Regions from separate parts of the Homo sapiens genome. Here all the other regions are linked to region 3. The links come from fine-mapping of genetic effects on gene expression. A gene starts in region 3. Each other region holds a variant in brackets. All regions are shown on one strand. Distances are from middle to middle.

The links. PIP is the estimated chance that this variant, and not a neighbour inherited with it, causes the effect. A credible set is the group of variants that fine-mapping cannot tell apart.
Region 1: its variant is the best candidate, but not a certain one, in a credible set for the expression of OXER1 in whole blood (GTEx, PIP 0.56).
Region 2: its variant is the best candidate, but not a certain one, in a credible set for the expression of OXER1 in prostate (GTEx, PIP 0.60).
Region 4: its variant is the best candidate, but not a certain one, in a credible set for the expression of OXER1 in whole blood (TOPMed, PIP 0.78).
Region 5: its variant is the best candidate, but not a certain one, in a credible set for the expression of OXER1 in whole blood (TOPMed, PIP 0.65).

The regions. Positions count from the first base shown.
Region 1 is chr2:42,712,824-42,717,929 of GRCh38, forward strand. The region is part of intron 14 of MTA3 (metastasis associated 1 family member 3); the gene reads left to right. It also overlaps the pseudogene RNU6-137P. Among named protein-coding and RNA genes, the nearest start is that of OXER1, 49 kb to the right of the region's middle. The variant T/C (reference allele first, on the strand shown) is at 2,214.
Region 2 is chr2:42,592,646-42,597,751 of GRCh38, forward strand. All of the region lies in intron 3 of MTA3 (metastasis associated 1 family member 3), which reads left to right. The region is part of intron 2 of LOC105374555 (a long non-coding RNA gene); the gene reads right to left. Among named protein-coding and RNA genes, the nearest start is that of MTA3, 27 kb to the left of the region's middle. The variant C/T (reference allele first, on the strand shown) is at 2,625.
Region 3 is chr2:42,761,437-42,766,542 of GRCh38, forward strand. It overlaps OXER1 (oxoeicosanoid receptor 1), which reads right to left and starts at 2,699. Exons shown (of 1, transcript NM_148962.5): 1 at 1,063-2,699. The coding sequence starts at 2,626. The coding sequence ends at 1,472.
Region 4 is chr2:42,690,721-42,695,826 of GRCh38, forward strand. MTA3 (metastasis associated 1 family member 3) reads left to right here. Exons shown (of 17, transcript NM_001330442.2): 10 at 5,045-5,106. Among named protein-coding and RNA genes, the nearest start is that of OXER1, 71 kb to the right of the region's middle. The variant TCTCTCC/T (reference allele first, on the strand shown) is at 2,361.
Region 5 is chr2:42,675,449-42,680,554 of GRCh38, forward strand. All of the region lies in intron 8 of MTA3 (metastasis associated 1 family member 3), which reads left to right. Among named protein-coding and RNA genes, the nearest start is that of OXER1, 86 kb to the right of the region's middle. The variant G/A (reference allele first, on the strand shown) is at 2,085.

The DNA.
Region 1 (5,106 bases), 49 kb before region 3:
ATTAGTGAAGTGTTCCATATTTTATTAAAAAAAAAAAGTTAGCCGTCTTTTCTTTTTTCCCCCCTGAGGTCCCTCCCCCTAGTAAAAAAGCTATGTATGGGAGAATGACGTTCCTCTGTTATTGTCATCAGACGTTATTTCAGAGACTTCACCAAAGATCTACAGAATCATCCAAACACCTGATGCACACAGGATTATCAGCACTTGAGACTCAGGATCCTCACAGACTGAGGTTAAATAGAAGTAGGTTTACTAGCAACATTCCAAAGATGAAGCTAAAGTGCCTGGAAAAGTAAATCCGGATGATTTGCCTGGCACCTTGGTGGCTTGCAGAGAGAGTGAAGTGGTTTGGGCTGATAACATACCAGACTTGAATGGGCCACAGTATTCCCCTGTATGAGGTTATTTGGGAGGAACCTGAAGCTATTTTTCTGTTTGAAGAAGCTAATTTGGCTTTGGAAGTATCTCAAGACCCCACTTGATGAAAAATGTGTTTTATGAGATTTTTCTAGAGATTTCTCAGCTAAAGTTAATGAGTATAAGCTTTTCTGAAATTTTAAGCTTGAATCATGAGAGAATAGTTGGTTTGCTTCTTTTGGTATTTTTGGTAGAGAGTTTAAATTTTTTTTTTAGTATGTGCCTTGTGGTATAAGCCGAGGGAGTTTAATAAAAATTTGGTTTTGAATGGATACTGAAAAATTTTTCTAAAGGTACAAAAGTGGTTACAAATCTCATCACGTTCCTCATTCCTGATTTACCCCATTCAATGATAACCATTATCATCGTTGCCTTAAGTATCCAAAAAATATTCTGTGCATCTATAAGAGTCTAAGTAGGCTTATTGTTTGTTTCTATATGATATTAACATACTGTCTATATTGCTCTGTCCCTTGCTGCTTTTTACTTAACATACCGTGCCACTGTATTGAAAACTGCCTCCTTTTTGTGTCAGCTGCATAATCTATTTTGTTGTACCATAACTAGTTTCCTATTAAAAGCTTTTAAGTTATTTTCAGTCATTTTCTATCATAAATAATGTTGCAACAAATATCCTTATGCAGATATCATTTCATACTGATGTATAAAATGGGAATGTTCCTTACAAGATAGATCCCTAAAAGTTAAAGTTGGGGCCAAGGAGCATACATTTTGAATTTTGGTGTAGTTTTATTGCCCGTAGAAAAACTGCAATTCACAGTCCCACTCACAACATCTAGACAATTCCTATTTCTCTAGAACTTTGCTGGCAGTGTTACCCATCTTTGAAACCCGTGACTAATTGACAGATGACAAGTTATATTAGCTTGCATTTCTCATTTTGAATGAGATAGAAATCTTTGCCTATATTTGAAAACCATTTATCTCCTTTTCTGTCAACTGTTTTTGCCCGTGGCCTGTTTTCTATTGGCAGTCTTACTGACTTGTGGGAACTTTTTATATTTTAACAAAGTTATCTCTTAATCTGTGATATGTGATACAAATAGTTCCCCCGTTTTCTCTTTGACTTTATGGTGTATTTGCCAAGCAGATTTTTTTTTAAAAAAAGACATATTAATAGTTGAATTTATAAAAAAAAAATCATGAGTTTTGTGGCTTCTTTAAAAATACCTTTCCAGTTCTAGAAGCAAACTCTACTGATAGTTTTATCTTGACAGGGTTCTTGAATGCACATGTGGGATGTTTTTGTGAATTCTGTGTGTATATTGCAGGGTTTCCATCTCACTGCCCCCAGTATTTCCAAAACACTGTAGAAAAATAACCATGAGTTTCAACAAAAGTAATAGTGTATTTCTAGGTTAACCCCAAGGAAATATAGATCATCCTCTAGGACAGTGGTCCCCAACCTTTTTGGTACCAGGGACAGGTTTCATGGAAGACAATTTTTTCATGAACTGGGTGGTGTGGGCCGTGATGGTTTTGGGATGAAACTGTTCCACCTCAGATCATCAGGCATTAGTTAGAGGCTCATAAGGAGCAGGCAATCTAGATCCCTCGCATAGCGGTTCACAATAGGGTTAGCGCTCCTATGAGAATCTAATGCTGCCACTGACCTGACAGGAGGCGGAGCTCAGGCGGTAATGCTCACCTGCTGTCCGGCCCAGTTCCTAACTTGCTACCACTAGTACTGGTCTGAGGCCTGGGGCTTGGGGACCCCTGCTCTAGGAAACTAAAGACATGTTCCTTGTGACCAGTCAAGTGACTTGAGTGAGATA[T/C]AGATGTTCTCTCTGGACAGGTTTTGATTCCTTCTGGGTTCTTTGGGGATTTCTCAGATTGCTTTCATTATCTGTGACTTCAAATGCATATCTCCCTGTTGAAGTGGAGTTAGGTGAGTAATTTGGGAGCAAGGACTGTCTGACAAGTGGCAGCATTGTTGGCCTGGCATTGAGTGCAGCCCAGCATTCCTTCTAACCAACTCAAGTGTGGGCCAGACAATCCCACCTATGGCTATTTCCTCAGGGCCAACTGTATTTTTCCTACTGAATGGCAACAACTTTTCTTATGTTAAAGAGTGACTAAGGCAGTCCTAGAATCTTTTCACTCTAATTTTTTCACAGTTGAGACATAATTCTTGCCACCAACTACTTTTTTTTTTTTTTTTTTTTTTTTGAGACAGGGTCTTGCTCTGTCACCCAGCCTGGAGTGCAGTAGCGTGATCATGGCTCACTATAGCCTCTAACTCAAGGGATCCTCCCTCCTCCTCCTCCTGAGTAGCTGGAACTTTCTATAAAATATTATGAGGATTAGTGAAATATGCTTCTTTCTAAAAAGCTTTGATCTCCCATTCAGAGGTACTCTGTAATGCAAATTGTCACTTAGAACATCATATAATTAATCCTCCTATTTTTAATGAGAAATTAGAAGCAAATATAGTTTAAAATGAAGTATCTTTGGGTATTGTGTTGGTGACCTCTTTGATGGATTTGTTGATGATAGCCATCAATGTCTATCAATTGCTGCCATATTGGCAGTTTTCCTTTGGGTCATCTAGACTGGAATAAAAGGCAAATCTTATTACTAGTAATATGGTGATTGCCTTTGTCAAGACATTGAGGAAATAACCAAGATGACTCATTCCAGCTTTATTAATAGAGAAGAAAGAAAAATTTATCTTGTCCTTATCCCAAATATAACTTGAATTTCAGGTGAATCAGTAATATTAGCAAGAAATTATGTAGTGTTAACTCAATGGTTTGGCAGGCGTTTGATCCTTACAGGCTTTGGGTTGCTTCCTAGTGTTTATTTAGATTACTCTTCCACAAGATGTTTATTATATTTCTGCCTGTATCTTCACTATTATTCAACAATAGGTGAAAAGCTTCATAGCTTAGTAATTTATTTTTTCTCCTGGGAATCACCTGAATAGGAAGAAAAGAAATTGGATCATTTATACTTGTCAGTGGTTGCATAATAATTAGCCAATATCTGGGTGCTATATTTTCAGATTCCTGATTGTTTTAGGCTCTCTGCAGTATGTGCTTTGTCTATTTTAATGTTTTTAAACTTATTTTTTAACTTTTAAAAAAGTTCAGGGGTACATGTGCAGGTTTGTTATATAGGTAAACTTGTGTCAAGGGGGTTTGTTGTACAGATTATTTCATCATCCAATTATTAAGCCTAGTACCCATTAGTTATTCTTCCTGATACTGTCCCTCCTCTCACCCTCCACCCTCCAATAGGCCCCAGTGTCTGTTGCTCCCCTCTGTGCATCCATGAGTTCTCATCATTTAGCTCCGACTCATAAGTGAGAACATGCAGTATTTGGTTTTCTGTTACTGTATTAGTTTGCTAAGGATAGTGGCCTCCAGCTCCATCCATGTTCCTGCAAAGGACATGATATCGTTCTTTTCTTCTGGCTGCATAGTGTTTCATGGTGTACATGTACCACATTTTCTTTATTCAGTCTATCATTGGTGGATATTTAGGTTGATTCCATGTCTTTACTATTGTGAATAGTGTTGCAATGAACATATACATGCATGTGTCTTTATGATAGAATGATTTATATTCCTTTGGGTATATATCCAGTAGTGGGATTGTTGGGTGATAGTTCTGTTTCTAGCTCTTTGAGGAATCACCACACTGTTTTCCACATGGTTGAACTAATTTGTATTCCCATCAACCGTGTATAGCATTTCTTTTTCTCTTCAACCTGTTTTCTCTGCCAGCATCTGTTATTTTTTGACTTAATGATAGCAATTCTGACTAGTGTGAAATAGTATCTCATTGTGTTTTTTTTAACCACAATGAGAATTTTTAAAAAATGCTCTTTTGCCATCTTCGGTTTAATAATTTTCAGAAAAGAGTTTTTTTTTTTTTTTTTTTTTTTTTGGTGAAAGGGCTAGAACTCATAAAAACCTAACTTTTATTTAAAATTATTTGAAGTTCCAGACTTGCACATTTTAACTCTAGTAGAGCAAATAATTCCTGTGGGTATCAAAGGAAATTCCCTGTGTGTATGCCCAGAAATGTCTCAGTTTGCAAAAGGAAAAATTCTTCAGTAAATCAGAAAACCTGTAGGACATTTTTGTCAAATATTTGAAGGTGGGAAAAAGGCATAAACATAGTAGAATCATACAGGTTAAAGTGATTCTGTTAATATTTATGACAGTATTAAAGTGTTTCAATACACGTTTTGTTTTGTCCCTTTGTCTTGCACATCTACTCTTCCAAATGACAGCTAATTAAAACACAGAATGTTTGTATTGTATGCTTTATTTTTGTCTGAAAATGTCTTACAATAGGGTATAATGAGCATCATGAAAACTGATTAGCTAATACCCATCCTCACTGTTTCTTACTGTTCTGACTGTTGGATGAAATACTCTGTTTGCACACAGGTAGCCTTTTAAATCTCAGCACCAATGAATGACATAGCTTGATCAGGGTTAGAAAACCAGTGATAAAACCAAATGGCCCATTATTACTCTTGCAAATCCCTAGCCTAACAATTGAGTTTTGCCAAGATAGGTTAAGCCTTCACAGTGGGGAAGGGATGGCCAAGTATGGCCCATCTAGGTCAGAGATGGCGAAGTTTGTTGCCTTTAGCAGCTGTCATTTATCTTCCATGTCATTTCAATCTTACGTTAAGACTGATTCCACCTTGTG
Region 2 (5,106 bases), 170 kb before region 3:
TTAGCTTAGGCCTACACAGGGTCAGGATCATCAATATCACTGTCTTCTCAGTCCACATCTTGTCCCACTGGAAGGTCTTCAGGAACAGTAACACACACGGAGCTATCATCTTTGATAACAATTCCTTCTTTTGGAATACCTTCCGAAGGACCTGTCTGGGGCTGTTTTACAGTTAACCTTTTTTCCTTAATGAGTAGAAAGAATACACTCTAAGACAACAATAGGCCAGGTGCGGTGGCTCACGCCTGTAATCCCACCACTTGGGGAGGCTGAGGTGGGGGGATCAGTTGAGGTCAGGAGTTCGAGACCAGCCTGACCAATATGGTGAAACACTGTCTCTACTAAAAAATAACAAAAGTTAGCTGGGTGTGGTGGCATGGGCCTGTAATCGCAGCTACTTGGGAGACTGAGGCAGGAGAATCGCTTGAACCCAGGAGGTGGTGGTTGCAGTGAGCCGAGATCATGTCACTGCACTCCAGCCTTGGCAACAGAGCAAGGCTCTGTCTCAAAAAAAAAAAATTAAATAGAATTAAAACAACAATAAAACATATAGTATATTGGCCAGGTGCAGTGGCTCACACCTGTAATCTCAGCCCTTTGGGAGGCCGAGGTGGGCGGATCACTTGAGGTTAGGACATTGAGACCAGCCTGACCAACATCGTGCTACTGCACTCCAGCCTGGGTGACAGAGCGAGACTCTGTGTCAAAACAAAAAAAAGTATAGTATAATAAATACATAAATCAGTAACATAGTCATTATCTATGTCAAGTGTTAGTACTGTACATAATTCTATGTGCTATACATTTATTTGATGGGCAGTACAGTAGGTTTGTTTATACCAGTATCATCACAGACATGTGAGTAATGCTTTGTGCCATGATATTACCGCTATAGTGTCACTGGGCAGTTGGAGTTTTTCAGCTTCATTATAACCTTAAGGGACCGTTGTTCATATGTGTGGTTTGCTGTTGACTTAAATGTTATGTGGTGTGTGACTATATATGTCATTTAGTACTCGGAGGACTATGGCATCTATCTTTATTTATTTATTGATATGGAGTCTTTATTTATTTACTGAGACGGAGTTTTGCTCTGTACACTACAATGGAACCTGTGAATAGCCACTGCATTTCAGCAGCCTGGGCAACATAGCAAGACCCCATCTCTATAAAAAATAAATGGTTATATGCATTGTGATTTTGACAGATATTACCAAATTAATTGCTTCAGATATTCTTCCAATTTACACCTACCAGCAATGAATGAGTGCCCATTCCCTTCCATTTTTACCAGTATAGGATTAAGTTTTTTTTTTTTTTTTTTTTTGAGACGTCTTCTTTTGTCACCCAGGCTAGAGTGCAGTGGTGTGATCTCAGCTCACTGCAACTTCCCCCTGTCAGGTTCAAGCGATTCTTCTGCCTCAGCCTCACAAGTAGCTGGGATTACAGGCGCACACCACCATGCCTGGCTAATTTTTGTATTTTTAGTAGAGGTGGGATTTCACTATGTTGGCCAGGCTGGTCTTGAACTCCTGACTTCAGATGATCCACCTGCCTTGGCCTCCCAAAGTGCTAGGAGGGAGCCATGCGCCAGGCCCCTTTTTTTTTTTTTTTTTTTTTAAAAGACAGTCCCTAGGCTGGAGTGCAGTGGCATGATCTGAGCTCATAGCAACCTCTGCCTCCCGGGCTCAAGCAATTCTTATGCCTCAGCCTTCTGAGTAGCTGGAATTACAGGTGTGCACCACCATGCCCGGCTAATTTTTTGTGTTTTTAGTAGAGACAGGGTTTCACCATGTTGGCCAGGCTGGTCTCAAACTCCTGACCTCAGGTGATCCACCCAACTCGGACTCCCAAAGTGCCGGGATTACAGGTGGGAGCCACTGCACCAGGCCTAGGATTAAATTTTTTAATCTTTACTAATCTTACAGATTAAAAATGGTGCCTTGGTGGGATTGTATCTTAAATTTCTTATGACTGAAGTGGAACATCTTTTTATATATATATATAAATATATATATACACACATATATAAATATACATATATACATATATAAATATACATATATATATATATATATATATATTTTTTTTTTTTTTTTGAGACAGAGTCTCACTCTGTTGCCCAGGCTGGAGTCCAGTGGCGCGATCTCAGCTCACTGTAAGCTACACCTCCTGGGTTCACGCCATTCTCCCGCCTCAGCCTCCCAAGTAGCTGGGACTACAAGAGCCTGCCACTACGCCTGGCTAATTATTTATTTATTTATTTATTTATTCATTTATTTATTTTTTAGTAGAGATGGGGTTTCACCGTGTTAACCAGGATGGTCTTGATCTCCTGACCTCATGATCTGCCTGCCTCGGCCTCCCAAAGTGCTGGGATTACAGGTGTGAGCCACCACACTGGGCCATAGTTATCTATTCTTATTCAAAACCAAGGTAGTAAGGCTAAACAGGAGCTTCATTTTTTTTTTTTTTTTTTTTTGAGACAGAGTCCCGCTCTGTCACCCAGGCTGGAGTCCAGTGACGCGATCTCAGCTCACTGCAAGCTCCACTTCCCAGGTTCACGCCATTCTCCTGCCTCAGCCTCCCGAGTAGCTGGGACTACAGGTGCCTGCCACCATGCC[C/T]GGCTAATTTTTTTGTGTTTTTAGTAGAGATGGGGTTTCACCGTGTTAGCCAGGATGGTCTCAATCTCCTGACCTCGTGATCTGCCTGCCTCGGCCTCCCAAAGTGCTGGGATTACAGACGTGAGCCACTGTGCCCGGCATGTTTTTATATTTTTAAAAGGCCACATGTGTGTCCTTTTCTGTGAACTGTTTATATTCTTTGCCTATTTTGAGTTTAACTTTTGCTAAATTAATTTGTAGGGGGAAAATAATAAAAGAAACCTTTAGTTACTCCAATAAAGGAAGTAAAGCAGATATTCCTAATTGTAAACTGACGTGTTTAACCTTACATTTTTCCGTGACTTCTTCTCCTATTAGAACAAGGAAATACATTTTACTTAGCTTTTCTTCTTTCCTTGTCCTCTACCTTCCCATGTTTAAGTAAACGGTATTTGGGTATATATATATTTTTTCAGATCACATAGGACTGGAAAAAATTTTAAAAATTATTATTGTAACTTTTTACTTAGTAACTTATGACTTAGTAATAAGTTACAATAATGATTTAACAATAATAGTAGGAGCTAACACATAATACCAGACACTCTAAATGCTTTTACATGTAAGTCCATTTTATTCTACATGTAAGTTAAGTCCATCTTACATTATATATGTCCCCATCTAAGTTTCTGAAAGCATTTGTCTGTGATTCATTCTGCCCAGTTTTTGAAATCTTAATACTTCCGAGAGAAATACTAAAGAGAGAAGGGAAAATAAAAGAACAATAAAAGGTCATCCTGGCATTTGAAAAACTTTTTCTTATTTCTAATTTTGTACTTCAGTCACAAAGTTTATTAGGAATAAAGCTAAACATAGTTGATTTTTAAGATGTGTGTTGTATTTTCTTATAACATTTTACATTTTGAGAACATAGCCCATGGCTTTTTGTTTCTTAGTCTATGAAGTGTGTAGGCACATAGACCTCAGTCAGCCTGCTACTCTCCTTTTGCAGCCAGGGCCCAACCAAGATACTGAGTCCTTACTCTGCCCTTGGGCCCACTTGGTCCTTTCTAGCCAGCTGTTACCCCTTGATTGGAGTTGGCATAAAATCTATTTTTTATCACAGCATTAAAGTAATCAACTTTCATTTAAAAGGACATTTTTCTCTTGCTATTTTATGGAGTTTTTATTTTTGTAAGTGACATTTTGTAATTGGCAGTTATGGCAAGTTTGTGTCTCATTAACCAGATTATTATCAACTGTAAATATTATAAAGGTTTATTATTTGACAAGTTAATTATGTTTTATGATATACATTTTCTTATTGATCTGGTCTTCTGAATGTTAATGGTTTATATTTTTTGTGAACAAAGCAAGTACTGTATTAATACTTTAAAATTGATGTCACATTGCTTATTGATCATTAAATGAGGCATTCCAGCAATTAGATATTCTTAAGCTTTTTAGAAAGCCTTGTGTTAGCTTTACTTCTGTCATTGTGTGGCTTAATTTGTGGTCTGGAAGAATACAGGCTCATGTTGTATATTTTCATGTGACTAGTTGATTGAAAATCCTTAATTTTTTTTTTGCTGTCTGTGGACTTACAGAATGAAAATCATTTTTATACTTGAAGTAGCTAATCTAAAATTTTCCACAAGTTATCTTTTTTTTTTGGAGACAGAGTCTCGCTCTGTCGCCCAGGCTGGAGTGCAGTGGTGCGATCTTGGCTCACTGCAACCTCTGCCTCCCGGGTTCAAGCAATTCTCCTCCCTCAGCCTCCTGAGTAGCTGGGACAACAGGAGCAAACTGCATTGCCCGGTGAATAATTTTTTTTTTGTATTTTAGTAGAGACGGGGTTTCACCTTGTTGTCCAGGCGGGTTTCGAAATCCTGAGCTCAGGCAATCCGCCCACCTCGGCCTACCAAAGAATTGGGATTAGAGGCATGAGCCACTACACCTGGCCATCTTTTTAAAAAATTATTATTATTATTATTTTTGTAGAAATGGGGTCTCACCGTGTTGCCCAGGCTGGTCTCAAAGTACTGGTTTCATGTGATCCTACTGCCTAATCCTCCCAAGGTGTTGGGATTACAGGAGTGAGCCACTGCACCTGGCCGACAAGTTATCTTTTTTTTTTTTTTTTTTTTCTGTTTTTGAGATGGAGTCTTGCTGTGTTGGCCAGGCTGGAGTGCAGTGGCATGATCTCGGCTCACTGCAACCCCCACCTCCTGGGTTCAAGCAATTCTCCTGCCTCAGCCTCCTGAGTTACTGGGATTACAGGCGTGCACTACCACGCCCAGCTAATTTTTGTATTTTTAGTAGAGATGGGGTTTCACCATGTTGGCCAGGCTGGTCTCAAACTCCTGACCTTGTGATCTGCCCGCCTCAGCCTCCCAAAGTGCTGGGATTACAGGTGTGAGCCACCTCACCCACCTGTTTTTTTTTTTTTTGAGATGGGGTCTTGCTCTGTTGCCCAGGCTGGAGTGCAGTGGCACCATCTCAG
Region 3 (5,106 bases):
TCTGTCCATTTCCCTTCCATCAGGTCATGAAGGAGTGAGGGCAGGTGCTGGGAGAGGTGCGAGGACTTGAGGGAGGAGTTGGTAGGAGAAGGGTCCAGGGAAGAGGAGATTGAGGAAATGGCCCGTGGAGCTGCCCTGAGCCCAGGTGGGCGCATTCAGGGGCAGAGATGGTACCAGAGGAAAGGTGCCTGGTGTTGAGCTGGCGGTAAGTGTTGGCGCCCCAGGTGGGGATCCACCCGAAGGAGCTGCTCAGTCCCCATCCTCCAGGAGTGTGCAGGCCTTTCCTAAAAGACCTGACTCAGGCTGAGGTGGCCCCGCCCAGGGTTGGACTCCCTTCCCTGTGGTGACAGAGGGCGTGGAGAAGCAGGGACCCCCTAGGCGTGGCTCCAGGGAGTAAAAGGGAGCAGTAGGAGTTGAGGGGGCAAGAGGGGCCCATGGGGAGCCGAGAGACAGAAGAGCAACCCTGGGGGGGGCCCAGGTGGCACCCCAGTACCTTGGTAGGTTTCTGAGTGCAGCAGGTAGATTTTCAGAACAGGGAAGTGGGCTGGAGATACACGGTGGAGGCGGGGTCTGGTACTCACCCGCTCATCCTTCCCGGGCCCACCTCCCTCTGCCTGATACTTTTTCTCTCGCTCCCTCCCCAGCATCCACATGGACCCTTGATGCCACCCTCCTGGTCTGTGTGTGACACTTCTGGGCTTTCACTTCTATTCCTGACGACTTTAGTAGCTGGGGTGCGTCCTGTCCATGATATGAGAGGGCTGGGCTAAGTGGATTGAGGGAACTGGGGAGGGATGTTAGGTCCCCAGCATCAAACTCTGTACCCGAGGGCCTGGAGCCCTGGTGGCCTGCCTGAGGCCTCACCCAAGAAAGCAGTTCTGCCTTTCAGGACATGCCGGGGCTTCCCAGAAGTTCTGGGAAGGACAGTGCCCCCTGGGATGGGGCTGTGGGATGGCTTCCCCACTCTCTCCCAAGTTTCCCTTCACCTTGGGGCGCTCACTTTGACGCCTACTGACAGTCCCAGGTTAGAATTAAAGACAGATATTTGGTCTTGCAAATAAATATATTTAAAAGGGAAGTTTATTAATATTGGAAGGGACAAACTGGAGAGCACAGAACATGCAGCTGTCCAATTTCTAAGGTGACTCTGCTGTGACAGTGATTGGCGTCTGTCCCCTGCAGCTGCGCAGGCCCCTGTCTGAGCTGGTGTGCCAACGGCACCTTGCCTGTCTCCTCCACCCGGCATCCTGCTCTCCCCTGCATTCTGGGAATGCCATCCTGGACACACTGAGAGGCCTAGGTGGGTTTCTCTCCCTGCCACCCACCTGAGTCCTGCCAGTGCTTTGGCCTGGCCCCTGGTCTGCCGCCATCCCTTGTCCAGTTGGTTGAGGCACCGTGTGCTGGCCTTGTCCCTCCAGGCCAGAGCGCGGCAGCCCTTACCCCCACAGCGCTGCAGCCCTGCAGCTGGCCCTCAGCCCTGGGAGGAGCCTTCCTTTTCCAGAGAGACCTCGCCCTGCACTTTCAGCTTCCCTATGGCCTCCGCCTTCCTAGAGGCCTCCCGGTAGCGCCACTGCCTGGAGGGTTGGTAGGAGCTCTCGTCGCTCACTGGGCCCTGCCGGCCCCGCGTGAGGCCCAGCAAGGCCCGGCTCTGGTGGAGGAAGTTGGGGCTAGAGAAGCAGTAGAGCACGGGGTCCAGGACACTGTTGAGGTAGGTGAAGGCCAGGGAGCCATGGAAGAGCTGTGTGCAGAGGTCCAGGGATCGGCAGGCGGACAGCCAGAAAGCCACCATGGAAGCCATGCCAAAGATGATGCTGGGCAAGAAGCAGATGGTGTAGACGGCCACCACCATGGCCAGCACACGCATGGCCCTCTGCGGGCCTGCCTGCCCGCCCAGACCACGGTTCCGGATGGTGAGCCCAATGCTCACAATAGCAAAGAGGATGAGCGCCAGTGGCAGGAAGAACTCCAGCAGGTACAGTGCCTGGTGCCAGCGGAGCGAGGCCGAGGGCTTCGTGCCCACCCTGTAGCTGAGGCAGGAGGGGCCGGAGAAGGTGCTCAGGAGCAGGTGCCCGTTGAGGAGCAGGATGCCCACCCAGAGTCCCCCGGCCACCCGGGCAGCTGCCCCCACGGAAGCACGGCTCAGCACGTGGTGGGGCTGCACCACCTTCAGGTAGCGGTTGAGTGCGATGGCTGTGAGGAAGACAACGCTGGCCGTGCGGTTGGTGGACAGCATGAAGAGGTTGACTTTGCAGGCAGCAGCCCCAAAGCGCCAGGTCTCATGGAGGAGGTAGTAGTCCACGCGGAGGGGCAGGTTGCTGATCAGGAGGAAGTCAGCGGCCACCAGGCTGACCAGGAACACCGTGTTGGAGGTCCAGGGCCGCGTGTGGATGCAGAAGATGAAGAGGGCCAAACTGTTCCCCACCAGGCCCAGGACAAACTCCAGGGCCAGGATTGGTGCCAGGAAGGCAGACACCAGCGAGGAAGAGGTGGGGTGGCAGGGCCCTCCAGAGGACCCCCCCACAGTGGTAAAGGCAGAGGGAGCAGAGGAGGGTGAGGGAGAGAAGGAGGGAGGGAGAACAGAGGAGGAGAGAGAGGGAGATGGAGAGCTCAGGTTATGAAGTTCCATGGGCTGCTTGGGCCATGGGCCTGAGAGAAGGTTCTGGAGTCTTCTACCCCTGCAGGAGTGCTCAGGGCAAAGTGGGATGATTGGCACTATCAGCTGGCCACCACGGTGACACAACATCCTGGGGTTTTCATCAGCATTCTCGCAGCCACTGAGAAACACCCTGTGTTCCTGTTTGCAGGCCAAGGGGAACCCTGCAGCCCTCCCTCCTTCCCTCCGCCTCGGGGTACTGAGTGATCCCACCACATGAGGTCTCTGAGCCCAGCCTGGGGGTTGTGCTGCTGGTAGAGGAGGAAGCAGGGCTCAGCAGGGGCAAGATGGAAGCCCAGAGAAACCCTGAAGTGGGAGGATAGTCCAGCCGGGTGAGGTGGGGGCTCTCAGGATCATGCAGCCCTCCCTGGACACCCCCTCCTCCACTACATATAGAGGCTGGTGGCTGCCTCCCTGCCCCCACCAGCTCTGGCTTCAGGGACTGTGGAGCCAAAAGGACATTGTCCTGAGAGGTAGGCAGGGAGTCAGTGAAGACCTCCACCGCCCTGCTGGTGGCCTGGAGGGAACCAGTCCTATTTGTGCTCCGCCAGCCTGCTGTGTGTCTGAAAGCCCACTGTAGTTCAGCTTTCAGTTGCTCCCAGGTTCCTGATGGTTCCGAAGTCTGTGATGGTCCCAAGTCCGGGTACACGGTGAAGTAGGCCCCATGGACGGGGACGCCCCTGCCAAATTTCTACTGCCATGGCACGGGGAGCTGGGGGCTTCTCCCGCAAATAGAACAATCCTGATTTTTCCCTGTCTGTGTCTCCCCATGGCTCCTTGTCCACTCCACTCCTTGCCCCCATTAGCATTCACTGCGGAATAGGGAGTGGGAGGCTGGGGCTAGCTCCAGACAAGGTACAAGTCCAGCTGTCCCATGGTGAGGTATTCTCATGAGCCCATGGGCTGGTCCTGTGGGTGGAGATGAGGGCTTCAGGCTCCTGATAACCCGGGACAGCAGGGCCAAGGGAGGTGCTGGTTCCAGGCTCCAGGGCCTGACCCCATCACTGCCAACTGGCTGGGGTCAGCAGTCTGCCATGTGTGGCCTGGCCTCTGTGTCCCAGGCACAGTGGCCCCTGGCCTCTCTTGGCTGCCCTGGGCTCCCATTTGGTCAAGGCTGAGGGCAAACATCCCTGGGAGAAGCAGGGTGGTGAGGCCCAGCCTAAGCTCCATATGCAGACAGGCCTGGGTTGGAAACAGAGCTGCCCTATTTCCAAACCTCTCTGAGCCTGATCTGTAAAATCAGGCACTACCACCTTCTTGGAGAGTTGTGAGGATAAAATGAGATAATTTATGTAAAAACTTATAGGCCAGGCACAGTGGCTTAAGCCTGTAATCCCAGCACTTTGGGAGGCCGAGGCGGGCAGATCACGAGGTCAGGAGATCGAGACCATCCTGGCTAACACGGTGAAACCCCGTCTCTACTAAAAATACAAAAAAAGTAGCCGGGCGTGGTGGCAGGTGCCTGTAGTCCCAGCTACTCGGGAGGCTGAGGCAGGAGAATGGCGTGAACCTGGGAGGCGGAGCTTGCAGTGAGCTGAGATCGCGCCACTGCACTCCAGCCTGGGCAACAGAGTGAGACTCCGTCTCAAAAAAAAAAAAAAAAAAAAAAACAAACTTCTAGGGGATTCCTTGGGACAGAGCGAGTGTTCACAAAAACAGATCTAATTTTCATGACTTTCTCTCTGGATTAAGCTTGCCCTGCATATGAGAGTAAACTCTTCTCTTCACGGCCATCGGTATTCTGACCTGGGTCCTCCCTGGAACATTCTATGTCTTCTTCTCAGGTCCTGCACGGAGCAGTGCATTGCTACAGGCCAGGAACGAGCCGCGTGGAGCCTCTGCCTGTGCCTATCCTGGACCATTTGTGTTTGAAGGAGCCTGATGGTGTTTTTTCTTTGCTTGCAGGAGAGGAAAGCCCTTAGGGGTGACGAGGAGGTTGAAGGTCCCGATGTCTCTTAGGGCCAGTAGCCTTTTCAGCAAAGGCAGGTCTTTCTCTGCTCCCAGTGGAGTGTAGGAAGGCAGTGAGCCACTGGGCTGGGGATGAGGGAGACAGGGGTCAAGTGTTCTTTTCTAGAGGAAGCTTTGAGTCCACGCAGGGACCTGTTCTGTCCAGATCTGTCACTCTCATGTGCATGCCCTCATTGACTTCTCACGGAAGTCCCAGGAAACTGAGCTGCGCCCGCTGCAGGTTCCACATTCTTGTCTCTTCCCACTGGTGCCTCTGAGGCCTCCAGCATCCCTAGACACCCATAGCAGGCTCAGGGGTCCCTCTGGAGTCTTTGAACAGGGCACCTGTGCATGACAGGGGAGGGAAGGGGACACAAGGCCAGACACCCCCACCAACACTGCTGAGCTCCTGGTACAACTTCATGCCCCTCTCCAGGCTGATCATAGTCTTTAGGTATTAACAGTGGTTAGCTCTGGGTGGGGGATTTTGTGTATTTCTGGGTTTT
Region 4 (5,106 bases), 71 kb before region 3:
CTGGAGTGCAGTGGCGCAATCTTGGCTCACTGTAGCTTCCGCCTGCCAGGTTCAAGTGATACTTCTGCCTCAGCCTCCCGAGTAGCTGGGACTACAGGCACACGCCACCAACCCCAGCTAATTTTTGTATTTTTATTTTATTTATTTATTTATTTATTTATTTATTTATTTATTGAGACAAAGTCTCACTCTGTTGCCCAAGCTAGAGTGCAGTGGCGCGATCTCTGCTTACTGCAACCTCCACCTCCCAGGTTCAAGTGATTCTCCTGCCTCAGCCTCCCAAGTAGCTGGGACTACAGGTACACACCACCATGCCCAGCTAATTTTCTTATTTTCAGTAGAAATGGGGTTTCACTATGTTGGCCAGGCTGGTCTTGAACTCCTGGCCTCAAGCAATCCGCCCGCCTCGGCCTCCCAAAGTGTTGAGATTACAGGCGCATGCCACCAGCCCCAGCTAATTTTTGTATTTTTAATAGAGACGGGGTTTCACCATGTTGGCCAGGATGGGCTCAATCTCCTGACCTTGTGATCTGCCTGCCTCAGCCTCCCAAAGTGCTAGGATTACAGGCGTGAGCCACCACACCGCGGCCTATGAAATACTTTGATACAGGCATGCAATATGTAGTAATCACCTCTTAGAACATCGTACACACACACACACACATCCCCCCCTAAAACTTAATAATTAGAAAACTGCATTTTAACTTCATTCCCCTTTTTAACTTTTTGTTGATTCTGTGTCTTATTGTACTATGTTTTGGAAAGTTGTAGTTATTTTTTTTTATTAGTTCATCATTTAGGCTTTGTGCTTAAGACAAGTGTAGTTTACATACCACAATTACAGTGTTATAATACTCAATGTGTTCTTCTGTGTACTTACTATTACCAGCAGGTTTTGTACCTTCAGATGATTTCCTCTTGCTCACCAACATCTATTTTTTTCTGATTAAAGAACTCCCTTTAGCACTTCTTATTGGACAGGTCTAGTGTTGATGAAATCCTTCAGCTTTTGTTTGTCAGCAAGTCTTTATTTCTCCATCACGTTTGAAGGACATTTTCACTGGATATACTATTCTTGGGTAAAGGTCTTTTCCTTCAGCACTTTAAATATGTCGTGCCACTCTCTCCTGGCCTGTAAGGTTTCCATTGAGAAGTCTGCTGCCAAACGTATTGGAACTCCATTATAAGTTATTTGTTTTTGCTCTCGTTGCTTTTGAGGTTCTTTCTTTATCTTTGACCTTTGGGAGTTTGATTATAACCTTATTGAATATCGATGTTAATATTTTTCTCCAGGTTTGGGAAATTCCCTAATATTATCCCTTTGAATAATCTTCCTGCCCCTCTTTCTCTACCTCTTCTTTAAGGCCAATAACTCTTAGATTTGCTCTTTCAAGGCTATTTTCTAGATCCTATAAGCAGGCTTCATTGGTTTTATTCTTTGCTTTTTTCTCTCCTCTGACTGGGTGTTTTTCAAATAGCCTGTCTTCAGGCTCAATAATTCTTCCTTCTGCTTAATTAGTTCCACTATTAAGTGACTCTGATGCATTTTTTCAGCATGTTAATTGCATTTTCAACTCTAGAATTTCTGCTTGATTCTTTTTATTTCAGTCTCTGTTAAATTTATCTGACAGAATTCTGAATTCCTTCTGTCTGTCATCTTGAATTTCTTTGAGTTTCCTCAAAACAGCTATCTTGAATTCTTTTTTTTTTTTTTTTTCTTTTGAGACAGAGTCTTGTTCCGTCACCCAGGCTGGAGTGCAATGGCGTGATCTCGGCTCACTGTAACCTCCACCTCCCGGGTTCAAGCAATTCTCGTGCCTCAGCCTCCCAAGTAGCTGCAATTACAGACATGCATCACTATGCCTGGCTAATTTTTTAGTATTTTTAGTAGATACAGGGTTTCACCACGTTGGCCAGGCTAGTCTCGAACTCCTGGCCTTACGTGATCCTCCTGCCACAGCCTCCCAAAGCGCTGGGATTACAGGCATGAGCCACTGTGCCCAGCCAGCTATTTTGAATTCTCTGTCTGAAAGGTCACATGTCTCTGTTTGTCCAGCATTGGTCCCTCCTGACTTACTTACTTTGTTTGGTGAGGTCATATTTTCCTGGATGATGCTTGTAGATGTTCGTTAGTGTCTGAGCATTGAAGAGTTAGGTATTTACTGTAGTCTTCACAGTCTGGGCTTGTTTGTGTCCGTCCTTCTTGAAAAGGCTTTCTAAAGGACTTGGGCCTCAAGCCCAATATCACTGTGGTTTTTGCAGACTCAAAGTACTCCCTTGGTAGTCTCAGATTAGATCTGGAATTCTCTGGATTACCAGACAGACTCTTGTTCTTTTCCCTTTCTCTCAAAGAAACAGTG[TCTCTCC/T]CTCTCCCTCTCCCTCTTCCCCTCCCCCTCCTTCCTTCTCTCCCCACACCCCGTCCCTTGAGCTACCTGGAACTGGGGTGTGGTGACACAAGCACTCTTGTGGCTACCACCACTGGGGCTGTGCTGGGTCATGCCTGTCGTAACTGCTCACTTGCTACCACCTATGCTCACTCAAGGCCCTAGGGCTCCACAATCAGCAGGTGGCAAAGTGAGACAGGTTTGTGTCCTTCCCTTCAGGGTAGTGAGTTCCTCCAGGCCCTGGTGAGTCCAGAGATGCTGTCTGAGAACCAGGGATTGGAGTCAAAAACCTTAGAAATTTGCCTGATGTTCTATTCTGCTGTGACTAAGCTGAGACTCAAACCACAATATAAAATCCTTCCTGCTTTTCCTTCCCCTTTCCACAGGCAGAGGGGCCTCCCTGTGGACACCAACACCCAGCCACTATTGGGGGTGGGGGTAGTTCTGCCAGGCCACCTCCAATGTACACTTAAAGCCCATGGGCTCTTCATTTTAGTCAGCTGGTGGGGAATGCTGTCCGGCCTGGGATCACCCTTCAGGGCACTGGGCTCCCCTCTGGCCCAAGGCAGGTCCAGAAATTCTGTTCAGGAACTGAGGCCTGAACCTGGGGACCCCAAAAGCCTGCTTATTCCTCCACCCCACTGTGGCTGAGCAGTAACTAAGGTGCAAAACAACAACATCCCTTTACTTTTCCATCTTTTTAAACAGAAGAAGCCTTTCACCATAGCCACCTATAGCTGGGAATGTGCTTGGGAATGTGCTGGGTCACACTGTAGTCAGCACATCTCAGAGCCCAAGGCCCATGGTGTACTACTACCCAGGCATTGCTGCTGGTTACTCGGGGCCCATGGGCTCTTTAGTCAGCAGCTGATGAATCTTGCAGGGACTGGGTCCTTCCTTTAAGGCAGCAGGTTCTGTTTTGTCCAGATGGTGTCTAGAAATGTGTATAGGAGCTAGGGCCTGGAATGGGGGCCTCACGACTCTGCCTGGTGCCCTGTCCTACTGTGGCTGAGCAGGTATCCAAGATGCAAGACAAAGTCCTCTTTACTCTTCACTTTCCATCCCTTAAGCAGAAGGAAGGAGACATTTTTGCCCCTGAGCTGTACTGCCTAGGTTTGGGAGAGGGGTGGTGCAATCACTCCTTTAGCCACCCTGGGTGTCTCCCTAGGTCACATGCCACCCGAAGTCCTCTGGCTCTGAGTCCAGCCCAGCACTAGGAGTTGTTTAGGAGTTGAAGTCCTTGTGTACCTAGGCTGTCTTCTAAGTTTACGTAGGTCCTCAGAGCACTTCAGCCCATGGTCATGAGGCTTGTTGAGAAACTCAAGTTCCAACCGATAGGATAGGTGATTACCCTCTGGCTAGGTCTGGTACAGATTCTCCCTCCCTACACAGGTACTGGCTGACCCCAGCATGGATTTATTCTCTGCTGTCACAGGGCAGCACTAAGTTCAATGTAAAGTCCCCTGGTCACTGTGATGTTCTTCCTCCATATGCACAGACTCTGGCACTGCAAGGCCTCTGCCAGGGGATGGGAGAGGGGTGGCATCAGCGATTCAAGACGAGACTGTCTCTCCTGTCTTCCTCAATGCCTCTTTCAAGGATTTGCAGAGACCAGATGACACACAGTCATAGCTGCCATCTTTGGAAGCTGAAATAACTCAGGCTAGAGCTGTTTAAATGCCGTTTCTAAAATAGTGCTGCAGCCCCACCTGTAGCTTGAGAACTTTCCCAAGTAAGTCATGAAATGTTATCAGGGCTGGTCACGGTGGCTCATCTGTGATCCTAGGACTTTGGGAGGCTGAGGTGGAAGGATTCCTTGAACCTAGTTGTTCAAGACCAGCCTGGGCAACATAGGGAGACCCCAACTCTACAAAAAATAAAAAAGAATTAGCCGGGCATGGTGTCACACCTATAGTCCCAGCTGAGGAGGCTGAGGCAGGAGGATCACTAGAGCCTGGGAGGTTGAGACTGCAGTGAGCTGTGATCATGCCACTGCACTGCAGCCTGGGTGACCCTGTCTCTTAAATAAAAAGAGAAAGAAATGTTATCAGTTATGATGTTTATAATTTTTAGTAAAATGTATAAACGGAATGAGAAATGGAATGTGTTGTATTCACATTCCATACTGAATATGACTTGTTTGGGGTACCGTTTGCTAAGGATTAATTTTAAATTTCTCAAATATTCTAGAATGAATCTTCCATGTGGATATTTGCTTCATTATTTTAATAAAGAAGTGGTTTTTAAGGGCCAGGTGTGACGGCTCGCACCTGTAATCTCAGCACTTTGGGAGGCCGAGGCGGGCAGATCACCTGAGGTTAGGAGTTCGAGACCAGCCTAACCAACATGGTGAAACCTTGTCTCTACTAAAAATACAAAAAATTAGCTGGGCATGGTGGCATGTGCTTCTAATCCCAGCTGCTTGGGAGGCTAGGCAGAAGAATTGCCTGAACCCAGGAAGCGGAGGTTGCTGTGAGCTGACATCGCGCCACTGCACTTCAGCCTGGGCAACAAAGTGACAGTCTATCTCAAAAAAAAAAAAAAAAAAAAAAAAAAAGAAAGTGGTGGTTTTTAAGGAAAGTACTTTCTATAGTAGCTTATTTTCATCTCATTTTATTATATGTTAACATAGATGATAGGTTGATTTTTTTTTTTTTCAGCTTCCTTGGAAATCATTGACTAGCATCATTGAATATTATTACATGTGGAAAACTACTGACAG
Region 5 (5,106 bases), 86 kb before region 3:
CTTATTTTAAATTGAGGTATACATATGGTAACATATATAGAGTGCCCTACAGTTTGTTACACAGCTTAAACATTTTTACCTGTGTATATATTCGTGTAACCACCACTAGATGGTAAAGAACATTACCAGTATCTCAACAGCTTCCCTTCTGCTCCTCTCCAGTTAGGAAATCACTATTCTGCCTTCTCTAACAATCAATTAGTTGTTCATTTTTTCAAACTTCTCTGGCATTTCAAATTTGTGTTATCTTACTGATAAACCGCAAGTCGTTGGTCCTGTGTTATGTTACTGTGTCTTTTCCTAGCTTATTTTCTTTATTTACCCTACATTTTCTCTACTGGATTTTGTCTCTTCTGTTATAGAAACTGTATTCATGTAAAGCTCTTAAGGGTAAGATTAGACTACGTAAAGTCCATTCAAAAGAAACTTCTGTGTGTATCAGAAAGATGGGGTTTATATGGACTTCTGGCACATAATATGATTCTCTGGTTTCCTTTATGAAGTTGGTCAGTTTCAAAGGAATTATTTCCTAGTAACTCCACAGTGTACACACCTGATGAGTGTTTACTTTCTACACATTCTGAGCTTTACTCTCCTCTCCTTTGGTCTTTGGTATAAATGTGCGCTTTGGAGGTTTCATATCTCCTGGTGAACAGTAATTCCAATGTATTCTTTCTCATTTGATTTGAGACAGTACAGGAGCTCCTCCTCTGAAAGCAAATGGTTCCTTCAGTGTTCAGGAACACAAACTAAACACTAAAGAGTAGAACCTTTGAAACAATGAATATAATCATTTTTTGTCATAATCACTTGATGAAGGCTAAGATACTACTTCAGTTCTTTGAAGCCCTTTAGGTAACAGCCCATCATCATTTAAAAAAGTATCCATAAGAAAAGCAGTTTCACTCATTTAACATGAACACAAAACTGAAAATCCATTCATGATTTGAGTGGTTGGTGTAGCATCAGCTGAGAAAAATGCACTTAATTCTGTGACTGGTTTCAGAGCCCCTGTTAATTATAAAAATTTCTTTTGGCTAGATGCAGTGGCTCATGCTTGTAATCCCAGCACTTTGGGAGGCCAAGACAGGCAGATCGCTTGAGCCCAGGAGTTGGAGACCAGCCCGGGCAACATGGCAAAACCCTGTCTCTACTGAAAATACAAAAATTAGCTGGGCATTGTGGCATGCACCTGTAGTCCCAGTTACTTGGGAGGCTGAGGTGGGAGGATCATCTGAGCCCAGGAGGCAGATGTTGCAGTGAGCTGAGATCATGCCACTGCACTCCAACCTGGGCAACAGAGTGAGACCCTGTCTCCAAAGAAAAAGATAAATTATTTTTATTTTGAGGAATTTTAGCATTTTTGAGTATCTTTTAATCTTTTAGTTTTTTCATTTATTGTAAATTTAGAAGGTTTAAAAAATAATTGTTTATGGGATTATTAACTGAAAAGGTCCCTAAATGCTATTGATCTTTCTTTTCATTTTCATGAGGTTAGTTATTAAGAAACAATAATTACAGTAGTCTTTCTTTTCCAAGAGAAGATATATTTCAGCACCCTCAGTGGATGCCTGAAGCTGAGGATGGCACTGAATCAGACTTTTTTTTCTCTACACTATACCTAACATAAGGTTTAATTTATAAATTAGGCACAGTAAGAGATCAACAAGAATAATCATAGAACAATTATAAGAATATACCATTATAAAAGATATGTGACTGTGCTTCATATGGTTTGGCTCTGTGTCCCCACCCAAATCTCATCCTGTAACTCAATAATTCCCACGTGTTGTGGGAGGGACCACCGGGGGAGATAATTGAATCATGGGGGCAGGTCTTTCCTGTGCTGTTCTCGTGATAGTGAATAAGTCTCATGAGATCTGATTTATTTTTTTTTTATTTTTTATTTTTTGAGATGGAGTCTCGCTCTGTCACCCAGGCTGGAGTGCAGTGGCGCAATCTTGGCTCACTGCAACTTCCGCCTCCTGGGTTCAAGTGATTCTCCTGCCTCAGCCTACTGAGTAGCTGGGATTACAGGCATGTGCCACCATGCCTGGCTGATTTTTTGTATTTTAGTAGAGATG[G/A]GTTTTCGCCGTGTTGTCCAGGGGTGGTCTCAAACTCCTGAGCTCAGGCAGTCCGCCTGCCTCAGCCTCCCAAAGTACTGAGATTACGGGTATGAGCCACCGTACCTCGTCCTGATGGTTTTAAAAATGGGAGTTCCCTGCACAACCTCTTGCTTTTTGCCTGCTGCCATCTATGTAAGACGTGACTTGCTCCTCCTTGCCTTCCACCATGATTATGAGGCCTCCCCAGCCATGTGGAACTGTAAGTCCAATAAACTTCTTTCTTTTGTAAATTTCCCAGTCTCAGGTTTGTCTTGATCAGCAGTGTGAAAACAGACTAATACAGTGCGCTCCCTCCCTGTCTCTCTCACACACACAAATATCTTACTGTACTATATTCATCTATTTTCAGACCACAGTTGGCTACGGGTAACTGAAACCTTGGAAAGTAAAATCATGAATAATGGGGTACATACTACATTGTATGTACAATGGAGTTGATGTAGAAGTGTGTAAAAGTACATACTACAGCTAAACTACACAGTCTGTCTAGTTAGCTTAGCTGCAGAATTTAGCTGATTCTGAAATTTGCAGAGCAAAAGCTGAAGAACCAAGATCAATTCTTGTGTTTTGTTTTTTTTTTTCAACCTCTGCTGCAGAAGAGTGAGAGGAAATTCACTTCAAAGTTGGAAGTCATTGTTCCATGGTTGTGACACATACAACAGAAGACTACACATGGCCAGTGGCCTTTGTTATGATTATAACTCGGAAATTGTTCATGAAATCCCTACTTCTGTTTTGTGAAAGCCAATGATTTATTTTTATTTTTATTTATTTATTTTTTTTGACAGATCCTCACTCTGCCGCCCAGGCTGGAGTGCAGTGGCGTGATCTCGGCTCACTGCTACTTCCACCTCCTGGGTTCAAGTGATTCTCCTGCCTCAGCCTCTTGAGTAGCTGGGATTACAGGTGACTGCCACCACACCCAGCTAATTTTTGTAGAGACAGAGTTTCACCATATTGGCCAGGCTGGTCTCAAACTCCTGACCTCAAGTGATCCGCCTGCATTGGCCTCCCAAAGTGCTGGGATTACAGGTGTGAACCACCGCACCTGGCCCCAATGATTGATTTTAAGTGAGATGTCAACCCTTGTTAAAGCAGTTATTTACTGTACCTAAACATGTTTACATGTTCTAAATACTGCCGTTACTCGGTGAACAAATTCATAATCTATACCCTTATCATTATCTTAGTTAATGCATCACTGTGTGTGTGTGTATACATACATATACATACATATTAATGCATACTTTTGCTAATAATGTTTTCACTTTAATAGATGTTAGTTGACATTTGAGCTCTCCTACAGTCTCCTACCAGATAGTGAGGGATCACTTAAAAGCTATTTTAAAAAAATACAAATAAGAAATGATCTTTCACATACATTCTCATTTGACCCTCACAAGCCTGTGAGGTAGGCAGCATGGATATTCTTCTCATTTAACAAACAAGGAAAGTGAGTCTCAGAGCAGTTAACTGATCTGGTGCCCCAGGTTCTACAATGAGCAAATACCTTGTATTATTATCAGTCTTTGACCTAAAAATTCAGCACCCAACTTCCCCTCATACTTGCCCTACCTACTTCACAGGAATAATGAAGGTAAAATGAATTCTAGGCTAGAAAAATACTTTGAGAGAAACATCACTGCGATTATACTTAGAAAGTATAATTTTCCATGATATTATGGCTCACTCCCCTTCTCATCCCAACTTGTGCGTGAACCCCAGATTTTATATTGCCTTTGTTCTGTGCTCAACTAAGGCGGGGAATAGTGTGATTCTGTTTAAAGTTATATAAGTTACAATTGGGGTAACCGCTATCATTAAGCAAATTGAAAACCGCACAGAAAGGCCAATGTGCAACTAGGCTTCACTAAAGCACAGAGTGAAGCAAGGAAAGATGATCAGATAGGGCATGATAGCCTAGAAGGAAAACGTGGTGTCAGACTTCTGACTGGCACACACAGTTACCTAAGGCACAGTGGTGGCAAAGAAGAGTTATTTGTTCCACATTATATAAACAAGAACAGAAGATTCATGGGAACCCATGCAGAAGCATCTTGTGTCACACAGATCTCTCCAGCTGCCTACAGGAAATATAAACAACAGTGCCTTCTTCATTTTAAAGAATGGCTGTACTCGTTTTTTAAGCTACACCAAGGATTACCTCCATGCTAAACTTCATTGGCAAAAATACAACCAGCACCATAGTTCCTCATCAGACAAACAGAATATCTTTTAAGGTAATGAATTAGATGGCTGTGTGTTGTTTTTTTTTTTCCCCACTTTGGATTCTTTTCTTTAAGACTCAAAACAATTTACATTGAGTATTTATAGATGATTCTAAGTGTGTTTATAATAAAGTGTGGTAGGTGAATGTAACAGATTAAAAGAATTCTGTAGCATCTATCTAGAAAAGATTATATAATATACAAACTATTCAAGTTATACAAAACCATTTTTTAGTGTCTTTTCCACTGAGAAGAATCCTATCTGGCACACTTCACCTGAGGTCGTTCATATTTATCTTTCATTTCTGTCAATTCTAGGGGAAGCACTTCTATTTCTGGATTTTCTGGGATAGCAACTCCTAAGTGATGCTTTAAAAAAACCAAAGCAGTATTAGGTTTCTCTGGTTCTTTTCTAAGGCTACCAGCACCTTCGTTCAGCACCCCAGAGCCCTAAGCACCTCCAGAATTGCTTGATCTTCGAGTTAGCAGTGTTCTAATGGGCCATAGTGACAGCTGCAGTGGCATAGCTGGCACTGAGACCTTGACTGGTGGCGGGCTTGGAGATGCACGACTTAAGCCAAAAGCTAAATTTTTAAGAGTTCTATTGTTGCGTAGAAGTGAAGCTATCCCCATTTGTGAAATTTTTAATAAGTAGCAGGAGATACTTTGCGTAAAAGGTGCAAGACTTTAAGTTTATGTGTTAGAAAGTCTGGGTGGGGGTGAGAGGTGGGGAGAAAAACAGAACTAGTTCT